Regions from separate parts of the Homo sapiens genome. Here region 1 is linked to region 2. The links come from fine-mapping of genetic effects on gene expression. A gene starts in region 2. The other region holds a variant in brackets. All regions are shown on one strand. Distances are from middle to middle.

Region 1 (5,386 bases), 27 kb after region 2:
GGGAGGCTGAGGTGGGAGGCTTATCTGAGCCCAGGAGGTGATGTGTATGAGATGTTAGTGTAATTAGTAATTTATTATTCTAAAGCACTGCTTGCTGCAAAGGGGAAGAAATGTACAATTAATACAAAGCACAACATTTCTTGATCTCAAGTGGATAAAGATCTGTTTTAGAGCTGGGCAACAATGTGAAAAATAAGTACTCTGAAAAAGTCATTTGTCTTTACCTAATTGTTTTCTTGTATAAAATGGAGATATCATAATAGCTTTCTTGACAACCTCCTAGGGTTTGTATAGCAACTGAGACTAAAACAAGATATCTTTGGCCTATACTTTAGAGAAAAGTATATACATCAGAAGTGACCAGCTTGATGAATTTTCAAAAATTGAACATGCCCATGTAATGAACGCACAGGACAAGAAAGAGAATGTTACCGTACCCCAGACATCTCCCTCATACCCCTTCAAATCACTAATCCCCTGCCAAAAGCATATTCTCTATCCTAGTCTCTGATACTATAGATTTTGCTGGTGTTTGAACTTTATATAATGGACGCACACAGTATGTACTCTTTTATGCCTGACTTCTTTTGCTCAACATTATGTTTGTGAGATTAATCCGTATTGTTCTGTGCAGTTATAGATTGTTCCTTTTCCTTGCTGTACAGTATTCAATTTTATGACAATACAATAATTGATTTTTCAGCTTCTCTGTTGATAGGCATTTGAATAGTTTCCTCTTCTGGCTTTATGAATCGGAAAATAAATATATGCCTTTTTATTGGATATATACCTATAAGTGGGATTGCATAATCATGGCTTGTACATATATTTGGCTTTAGTAGATATCACCAAACAATTATTCAAAATAGTTGGTCCAGTTAATACACCCACAAGTAATGTATGAGATATCTGGTTGCTATGTACTTTGCCAACACTTGGTATTTTCTCTGTTGAGATTTAATATACATAAAATAATTTGGTAAACCATAAATCTTCAAATGCACAGTATTTTCCAATTTTATTTTACTAATGTATTTGTCTTTTTCAAAGTAACTTAAGATGACTAGAAGGTAACACTGTGAATCTCACTTCACTACTTACAGCTTTCCTTCAGATTGCTGTTACCCTCTGGGGTGGCCTTAATTAAACTATGCCTTTGTTAGTCTAAGTAAAAGTAAGCCTAATAAACAGGTCAAATTAAAATTTTCTAATGTTACTTAAGTGTTTTGCAGAAATATTAATTATGCCCTTTAGTTCTGTAGACAACAGAAACAAAATTCTAATTCATAGAACCTGGAGAAGCTATAACACAGGCCAGGAAAATTTAGCAAGCAGCACGTATACTCATTTGAAATGCAAATCTCATTTCCTATGCATGTAGTTACCTAAACACTTAGAACATAATTCATCTGATTTCTTTTTATGTCTACTGCCTAACTTCTCTACACCTGACTTTATGGAATCTTTTAAGTAGTTCTACCCTAGATGGTTTGTTTGTTTGTTTGTTTGTTTGTTTGTTTTGGTGGGGAGGGGTGCAAATAAGATAAATGTTGGATAGAAGAGAGGAAGGGAAAACTCTATACTAAAAATGGCTATGGTTATTAGCGGACCAAGCACAGTTCTGGATCTGTTCTGCTATCAGACAAAAATGATGAAATGCTGGGAACTCTAATGACCAGTTGTCATCTTCCTCCTCACTCTCTGCAGCTGCTGACCCTAATCTTCCTTACTGCCTCAGTCTCCCCTTCAACTTGCTTTAAGTTGATGGGATTTTGCTCTGTTGCCCTCATTTATAGAACCCCACTTCCATCAGAGAGTGTGACTCTGAGGTCCTGTTTTAATTAATTAATTAATTAACAAAACATATTCACAAAATACCTTTTATGTGCCCAAGAAAGAGAACTCAGAGGTAAATAAGAGCCAGTCTGCCTTTAAATAGTTCACAGGCTAGTGAAAGAGATAGTACATATCTGGCTATAAGTACTAAAATAGCAATAATAAAGCATTGTATAAACATAAAAGGACTTCGTTATACAAGTGGATATAGCACAATGAGGAGAAAAATATTTCATTCTCCCTCCCTCTGCAGTTTCATTTTATTTTGTTACTTCAGTCTCAGGTTACAATTATAGTTATTTAACTGGAAAGAAAACCATAATCTGCAAAAGATATGAATGTAGTATCTATGATGGAAAATGCTTGTCTTTTATATTCTTGTTTCTTTGCTTTGGGTGTTTGTTTTAGTTTTTAGAAAAAAAAATTTTTGGCCTGTTTTCACAGTTCTTTCTGAAAATCACTGATGATTCCTATACTCAAAGCTCATGAGCTATCTTCTACTTGGGTTCACTTCTTTTCTGTTTGTTTGTTTGAGACAGGGTGTCACTGTGTCACCCAGACTGCA[A/G]TGCAGTGGTGTGATTGACCATAGCTCACCGCGGCTTTGGACTCCTGGGCTCAAGCAATCCTCCCACCTCAGGCTCCCAAAGTGCTGGGATTATAAGGGTGAGCCACCACACCTGGCCTTGGTCATTTCTGATACTTTATTTCCATCAGGCTCAACTTTTGCCTTTTCAGGGTGTCTCCTTCAGTTTTTTCCCCTTGTTTCCTTTTTATCTTCCCTCTCTTTTTTTTTTTTTTTTTTTTTGGCATTCCTTACTTTTTTGGTTTTGTTTATTTTGTTTTGCTTCTGCAGAGCAGCCTTCCTAAGAATCAGTTGAAATATTTCTTGTCACTTTTTCTCTGTCTTCAATCTAGATGACTTCTAACACCTTGCACTTGTTTTCTGAAAGACTTTCTTTCATATGTCTTTATTTTCCAACTTAGTCAATGTTGTTTGGTCCTCTGTATTGCTTAATTGCTGTTTCAAATGAACCTAGCTGTCACATGGTGTGGAGAGTGAATAGCTCACCTCTAGTTCTTGTCCTTCTCCACTCAGGCTCAGAAGCTTCTCCAAGCCAGTTGTTCAACAGCCTGTGGTGTGTCCATCCTACCCTTTCCGTCTTCAGCCCTTCTATTCATAGTCTTATTACATATATTTGAGAAGAATTTAATGGACATTTTCTCTTTATTCCTCCATATGTGCAAAAATAAAAGACTAACAGTTGAGCAGATTGGTAGAGTGTATACTAATGGGTGCATAGGAATCACTGGGGTATTCTAAAGGCAGATTTCCAGGCCTTGTTCTTAGAGACTTTGATTTGGTAGCTCTGGCCCAGGGCCTGGGAATCTGCATTTAACAAGCAACTCAGTTGCTTCTGATAGACGTAGTTCTAGGACCTAATTTTGAGAAACTTCATTGTGCTGTAAACCCTTTAATGTATTCCCATTTAATAGCCATACACGTAATGTACAGCTTTGAAAGGAGGCAAATCTGTCCCTGGCCCCTTTCTTCATGCAGACAGGCATTACCAGCAGCTTTTTTTTCTTTTTAAATTAATATACTTTATTTTTTAGAGAAGTTTTAGATTTATAGAAAAATTGAATGGAAAATCCAGGGGGTTCCTAGACTGCTTAAAGAGTCCCCTATGCTGTACCTATTCATCTTTCTTCCCTCCCCCAAAGCCCTGGCAATCACTAATCTTTTTACTGTCTCCATAGTTTTGTCTTTTCCAGAATGTCACATAGTTGGAGTTATACAGGATGCAGCCTATTCAGATTGGCTTCTTTCATTTAGCAATATGCATTTAAGCTTATTTTGTGTCTTTTCATGGCTTGATAGGGTGTTTCTTTTTATTACTGAATTGGAAAAAATGGAATGAATAATATTCCTTTGTATGAATGTGCCACAGTTTATCAGTTCACCTATTGAAGGACATCTTGGTGTTTCCAAGTGTTGGCAATTATAACTAAAGCAGCTATACACATTCATGTGTAGGTTTTTGTGTGGACATAAGTTTTCAACTCATTTAGGCAACCAAGGAGCACAATTGCTGGGTAGTATGGTAAGATTAGCTTTGTAGGAAACTGCCAAACTGTCTTCCAAAGGGGTTGTAACATTTTGCATTCTGACCAACAATGAATGAGAGTTCCTGTTGCTCTGCATGCTCTCCAGCATCTGGTCGCATAGTGTTTTTGTTTAGCCATTCTAAGAGTTATGTAGTCACATCTCATTGTTATTTTAATTTAAAATTCCCTAATGACATATGATGTTGAGCATCCTTTTTTTTTTTTTTTTTTTTTTTTTGAGATGGCATTTCACCATGTTGCCCAGGCTGGTCTCAAACTCCTGAGCTAAAATAATCCTCCCGCTTCAGCCGCATGAGCCACTATGCCTGGACAGCAGTTTTAAATTGTAATGAAGTCCAACTATCAATTTTTTTTCATGGATCATGATCTGATGTTGTGTCTAAAAACTTATCACCACTAAACCCAAGATCACTTAGATTTTTTCCTCTGTTATCTTATGTGAGTTTTATAGTTTTCCATTTTACATTTAGGTCTACGATCCATTTTGAGTTACTTTTTGTGAAACTGTTCTTTTCAAAGGGAAATACTGAGTGACTCTAGCATTGCCGGCACCCTCTTCTCCTCCAACTTTTCCCTCCTACTTTTTTTAATAGAAAATTTAAAACACATACAAAAATGGGGGGAAAACAGTATAATGAACCTCCGGGTAACAATAGTCCACCTTCAAAAAGTCCCAACATTTTACCAATTTTATTTAATCAATTACCCTATCAGCATTTCTTTATTTCTTTGTTTTTGCTGGAATTTTTATTTATTTATTTTTTTGAGACGGAGTCTTGCTCTGTTGCCCAGGCTGAAGTGCAGTGGCGCAATCTCGGCTCACTGCAACCTCTGCTTCCTGGGTTTAAGTGATTCTCCTGCCTCAGCCTCTCAATCAGCTGGGATTACAGGTGCCTGCCACCACGTCTGGCTAATTTTTGTACTTTTAGCAGAGACAGGGTTTCACTGTGTTGGTCAGGCTGGTCTCAAACTCCTGACCTCAAGTAATCCACCCTCCTCAGCCTCCCAAAGTGGTGGTATAACAGGCATGAGCCACGGTGCCCGGCCTGCTGGAATTTTGTAAAGCAAATTCTAAACATCATCACTTCACCCATATATATTTCAGTACAAGCACACCTTGGAAATAGTACAAATTTGGTTCCAGACCACTGTAATAAAGCAAATATTACAATAAAATGAGTCACACACCTTTTTTGGTTTCCCATTGCATATAAAAGTTATTTTTGTGCTATACTGTAATCTATTAAGTATGCAATAGCACAATGTCTAAAAAATGTATATACCTTAACTAAAAAATACTTGATTGCAAAAAAATGCTAACAATCATCTCAACCTTCAGCAAGTCATACTCTTTTTGCTGGTGGAGGGTCTTGCCTCCATGTCGGTGGCTGAAGACTGATCAGGGTGGTGGTTGCTGAAGGTT
Region 2 (5,386 bases):
TCTTACTCTCAAAACAAATTAGTTGTCTTGTCTATGCCCTTGCTTATGCTGTTACTGTCAGGCCTCTGAGCCCAAGCCAAGCCATCGCATCCCCTGTGACTTGCACGTATACGCCCAGATGGCCTGAAGTAACTGAAGAATCACAAAAGAAGTGAATATGCCCTGCCCCGCCTTAACTGATGACATTCTACCAGAAAAGAAGTGTAAATGGCCGGTCCTTGCCTTAACTGATGACATTACCTTGTGAAAGTCCTTTTCCTGGCTCATCCTGGCTCAAAAAGCTCCCCCACTGAGCACCTTGGGACACCCACTCTGCCCGCCAGAGAACAACTCCCCTTCGACTGTAATTTTCCTTTATCTACCCAAATCCTATAAAACGGCCCCGCCCTTATCTCCCTTCGCTGACTCTCTTTTCGGACTCAGCCCGCCTGCACCCAGGTGATTAAAAGCTTTATTGCTCACACAAAGTCTGTTTGGTGGTCTCTTCACACGGACGCGCATGAAAGTTACTCCATTCAGAGGCCTTTCCCATCTCTTAATCTGATTCTGCACTAATATGTTAGCTCCAAGCCATGTGTGGATATTTAATATCTGAAATGTGGCTAGACCAAATTGAAATATAAGGTAGCTGTAAAATGCACATTGGATTTTGAAGACTTGGCACAAAAAAGATGTACAATTATCTAATTTTTTAAACAATGATTACATGTTGAAATATGTTAAATAGATTATTAAAACTGATTTCACCTGTTTCTTTTTAGTGTTTTTTTTTTTTTTTTTTTTTTGAGACCGAGCCTCACACTGCCGCCGGGCTGGACAGTAGTGGCTCGATCTCGGCTCACTGCAACCTCTGCCTCCCGGGTTCAAGCGATTCTCCTGCCTCAGCCTCCCAAGCAGCTGAGATTACAGGCACGCGCCACCACGCCCGGCTAATTTTTATATTCTTAGTAGAGACGGGGTTTCACCATGTTGGTCAGGCTGGTCTGGAACTCCTGACTTCAAGTGATCCGCCCGCCTCGGCCTCCCAAAGTGCTGGGATTACAGGCGTGAGCCACCGCGCCCAGCCTTCTTTTCAGTTTTAAATGCTGCTACTACATAATTTTAAATTACAATATGTGGCTTCTATTAGACAGCCCTGGGGCTTAAATCCTACTTATTCTTCAAAGCCTAGTTGAAACACTGCTGCTTTCATGAAGCTTTCCCCCAGTGACTCCAACTGCCCCAGCCCCCACCGCCAACCTCTCGTAACACTTTGAATCACACTCACAAAGAATAAGATTAATTTTACCTTGTTACACCTTCCCAACTCCAACATAAGCAAGTTGAAGAAAAAAAAACTATATCTAGATCACCATGAAGTTTTCCTCTGACACCTTGGAGAGCCCAGCGCTACGGTAATGTTTGATGTCTGCTAATGGAGAGCTGAATTTCTTAATTACTAATTATCTATCCCTTTCAACGATTTCCATTTTTTTCCTCTGGGATTAAAGTCGATGTCTATCAATGTCCTGTATTATTTTTAAAGTGCCCATGAGCTGTACACATACAATATAACGAACAAGCAAATCCAAAACTAATACATGTGGTCAATACACTTAGATCAACTGTAAAATTTAGACAAGCCTCTAAAGGTCCCTTTTTAAAAAATGATGTTGTACAACCTAACAGTGTATCGTGAGATCAACTATTTCAAAAGTAGAAGCCTTTCCCAAAGATTAACACTGGGTGAGCAGTTTACCAAAAAATTATTGGCGGTCTTCCCCCACAATCCCGAGTATAAATCAGGTAAGCATGCAACAGCTTGGGTGCAGTAAGAGCAAAGTCCCACACTGCATCCAAAGCTCAGAAATCGAGCTGTGAGAAATGTGGTAGTAGGGGAAAAGATGACTTGCGTGAAGGAGACGAACGATGAAAACTGTTGGAATGCAAAACGAGATAACAGCCAGAATAAAAAAAAGTATACCAACTAAGTGGGAGGGATTCTCCTCGGGTCAACCTCTGAACCCTCAGGCGAAGGTCGCAGTGGTCATTTCAAAACGTCTTTTCTTCACATTGTATTTTAGTGACTCAGATCTGCATCCAACAAACTTCCTTCTTCAGCCTACTCCAACTCCCACAGCCAGGACTCCGGCCAAACCCAGCCCTGAAGCCACCCACTCCAGCACACTTTGGAGACTGACAGACGACACAGGAGGACCGTTCTGAGGCCCAGCACCTGGATGACACCCCTCTCCTTGGGAGTCCCGCCCCAGTCCCTTGGGCAGAACCAGGCAGGCAGGGGGCACCCAGCTGGCAGAGGGGTAGGGCAGGGCACCGGACTTCGCCTAGGACCGGCCTCTCCGTTCCATGCCGACGCCAGACGGCTCCTCGGGGACCGGCAAGATGGTGAGAAGGAAGAATAAAGGGGCATTGGAAATTAGCCCCGGCTTTCACTCACCAGCCGTCGCCGCTCGACGTTGGCAGCGGCGGCACATCTTCTCCTTCCGCCATTGCTGTTGACGTCCACGTCACTTTGCCGAAAAGTGGATCCGGCGCTGAGACCAACTCCGAGACTCAATGTCGTAAAAGGTCTTCGGAAGTCCAGCACTGAGCTTCCCCAGAGGGGAAGAAAGAGGGAGGTGGCAAGGGACTGGAGGAACGCAACGTCACGGCGTCCCGAGGCCGAAAGGCAGCGTCTTGGGGGAGGAGACTTGGTGGAGGCAGCTGCCCCTCCAAAGACTACATGTCCCAAGATGCCACGGTGCCGCGGGCGGGGCGGGGCGCGGTGGACGCCGTCCCAGTTGGAGGCCTTGTGTGACAAACAGCGTGTCTTTTTAGCGTCCACTTAGCGTCTTCATTCCAGCTTGGCGTCGAAATTAACAAAGTTAGAATTTACAGTCCTAACTATTGGAGAAAGCAAGGGAAATGGGAATTGACATAGGGAAGGCGGACGTAGGAGAAGAGCCACAGTTCAGTAATTTCCTGCTGTAGCAATTTAATTTGAAGAAAGAGTGGGACGTAAGGAAAGGGGCAGACCACCCCTATTTGTGAGGCCCCGTCAAAAGTGTAAATGAAGGCCCACATACTTTTTGACTGAATATTTAAAAGTTGTAAATGAAGCTATATACTAAAGGAGATACGTTCTAGCCTCCTACCTTAAATATATCTTCCTAACAGTCTGGAAGATCAAGTCCGAATTTAGAATTCTAGGACTGGAATTCCAGGCAAGCAGAGCTGCCAAAATCCTTCTCTACGCGTTCCACTTCCCCTTTACACCGCATGGGCGGACACTTGGCCACCGCCGGGGCCTTGGGGTGAGCACACGCTCAGGAGGATGGACCTAAAGAAACGCTTTTGCAAGCCCTGAAAACAACAGTGATGAAGTAGAACTGCATGTAACAATATGGATACATCTGAAAAATACGCTGTTAAATGAGCAAAACAGATTGCAGACGGATAGGTAAAGTATGGTATCATTTATAGTTGGTGTTTAAAAGACAATATATTTAAAATAGATCCATATGAGTTTAAAATGCAGGAGAATGATATATAGAAAACTCGGAATGGCAGTTACATTCAGGGAAAGGGAGGAGTTTCCATGAATTTTTAAATATTTATTAAGGGCCCCAAGGTGGCCACATAGGTGGCCAGTGTTCTTTATAGAGTCTATACTTAGGTATCTAAAATGTTTCATAGTTTCAAAAACTATTTGTTTTAAATAGATACAAAACAGTACAGCTATCTCATTTACAACCAAAAACATGTTCACTCTCTTCCCTAAAGGGAAATAATACAGATCTGCATGGTACTGCACCCACTTCCAAGGCCCGGATCTCTGTAATGTTCAGTTCTCTGTTAGGGAACATTTCTTTTAACATAGAATGAGACTGTAGATGCCCTCTATCAAAAAGAATAAAAGACGTGAATCTAGGTCACATTACCATTCTAATATTCAGGACCTCCCCTGGGTCCCTTCAATTGTTGCCAGTAGATTTTCAGAAACTTTTCAGAAAATGGTTTTAAAACCTATTCAGTCATTGACATGAGAAGCAGTTGCTCACTGGTTAAGAAGATTCTAGTCCTCAATTATGATTCATTTTGAGTATAATTAAATCAGCAACTGCTTTATAGTCTCTGGTAAAATATTTTCCCATTAAAAATATGTCACTTGACATTTTTAAACAGTTCTTTATTCTGTCAAAATAAAGTGGAAAGTTCTGACTTCTATGTTCTTTAATGGAGCCAGAGCCAGCTTCATGGGCATGTAGTCTATGCAATAGCATGAGACCACATGCTTAGAAGAACTCTGTGCTTGATTTCATGCTCTGGTGTTGCCATCTTGAAATTCTTAATAATTTGGGAACAAGGAGCCACTGGTTTTAATTTTGCACTAGGCCTCACAAATTAGGGAGCCAGTTCTAGATAGGGTCAATATCTTAGTGATGTATAACCCATTGGGGACAAGATTTCAACCAAAATTGTTTAGCGATAGTGTCTTCTAGCGGATTTTTTTTTTTTTTTTTTTTTTTTGAGACAGAATCTCACTCTCACCCAGGCTGGAGTACAGTGGCATGATCTCAGTTCACTGCAACCTCTGCTTCCTAAGTTCAAGTGATTCTCCCGTCTCAGCCTCCCAAGTAGCCAGGACCACAGGCGTGTGCCACCACGGCCGGCTGATTTTTGTATTTTTAGTAGAGACGGGGTTTTGCCATGTTGGCCAAACCATTTTTCTTTATTATTATTTTATTTTTATTTTTCTGAGACAGGGCCTCACTCCCTCAAGTAGAATTTGTTAAATTCTAATAATGGACCTCTGCTTAAAACAAAACAAAAATGCTTTTCAAGAACTAGAGAAGATTTCATTATGAAATCTTGGAGTGCGTCCCCTGCTTGCATTTGTGCATCTAATTGTAGTTCCCACATCCAAATGGGAAGGTGTATTATTTCATATTATCCTTGGATAAAATCAAAGCGTATTTCTTATAACAAGAAAATTAAAATGTCTTAGTTTTAAATTAAATTATAGAGAACATAAAAAGATTTTTCATTTATTATTTGGTGTTCTGAGCCATATAATTATGTAATTTATACTGTATTACATGTACTTAATTTGTACCATGCCTATGACACATAGTAGAATCTCCATAAATATTTGTAAAATGAACTAGGGAATTTTTTGTAGTACTTTTGTAATGGATTAAGCTATTCACCTATATAGAAATGGCTGGTTGGGTTCAGGGACAGGTAAGGATTATGAACTCATCTGCATAGTCATAGTTGTTATGTGAGTAGAATTTAATTCAGTTTTCATTGTAATATTATTTTAGCATTTGTTAAAAAGAGATGGAGAAATAACATAGCTCTTGATCATTTATTCCATATTCGTGCAGCCTTTTCTTGACTTTCG

The links. PIP is the estimated chance that this variant, and not a neighbour inherited with it, causes the effect. A credible set is the group of variants that fine-mapping cannot tell apart.
Region 1: its variant is the best candidate, but not a certain one, in a credible set for the expression of TBC1D23 in whole blood (INTERVAL, PIP 0.67).

Annotation. Positions count from the first base shown.
Region 1 is chr3:100,231,591-100,236,976 of GRCh38, reverse strand. No RefSeq gene overlaps it. Among named protein-coding and RNA genes, the nearest start is that of TBC1D23, 27 kb to the left of the region's middle. The variant A/G (reference allele first, on the strand shown) is at 2,402.
Region 2 is chr3:100,258,123-100,263,508 of GRCh38, reverse strand. It overlaps TBC1D23 (TBC1 domain family member 23), which reads right to left and starts at 2,517. Exons shown (of 19, transcript NM_001199198.3): 1 at 2,438-2,517. The coding sequence starts at 2,490. RefSeq lists enhancers at 1-438, 1,776-2,444, 2,220-2,709, 2,445-3,113.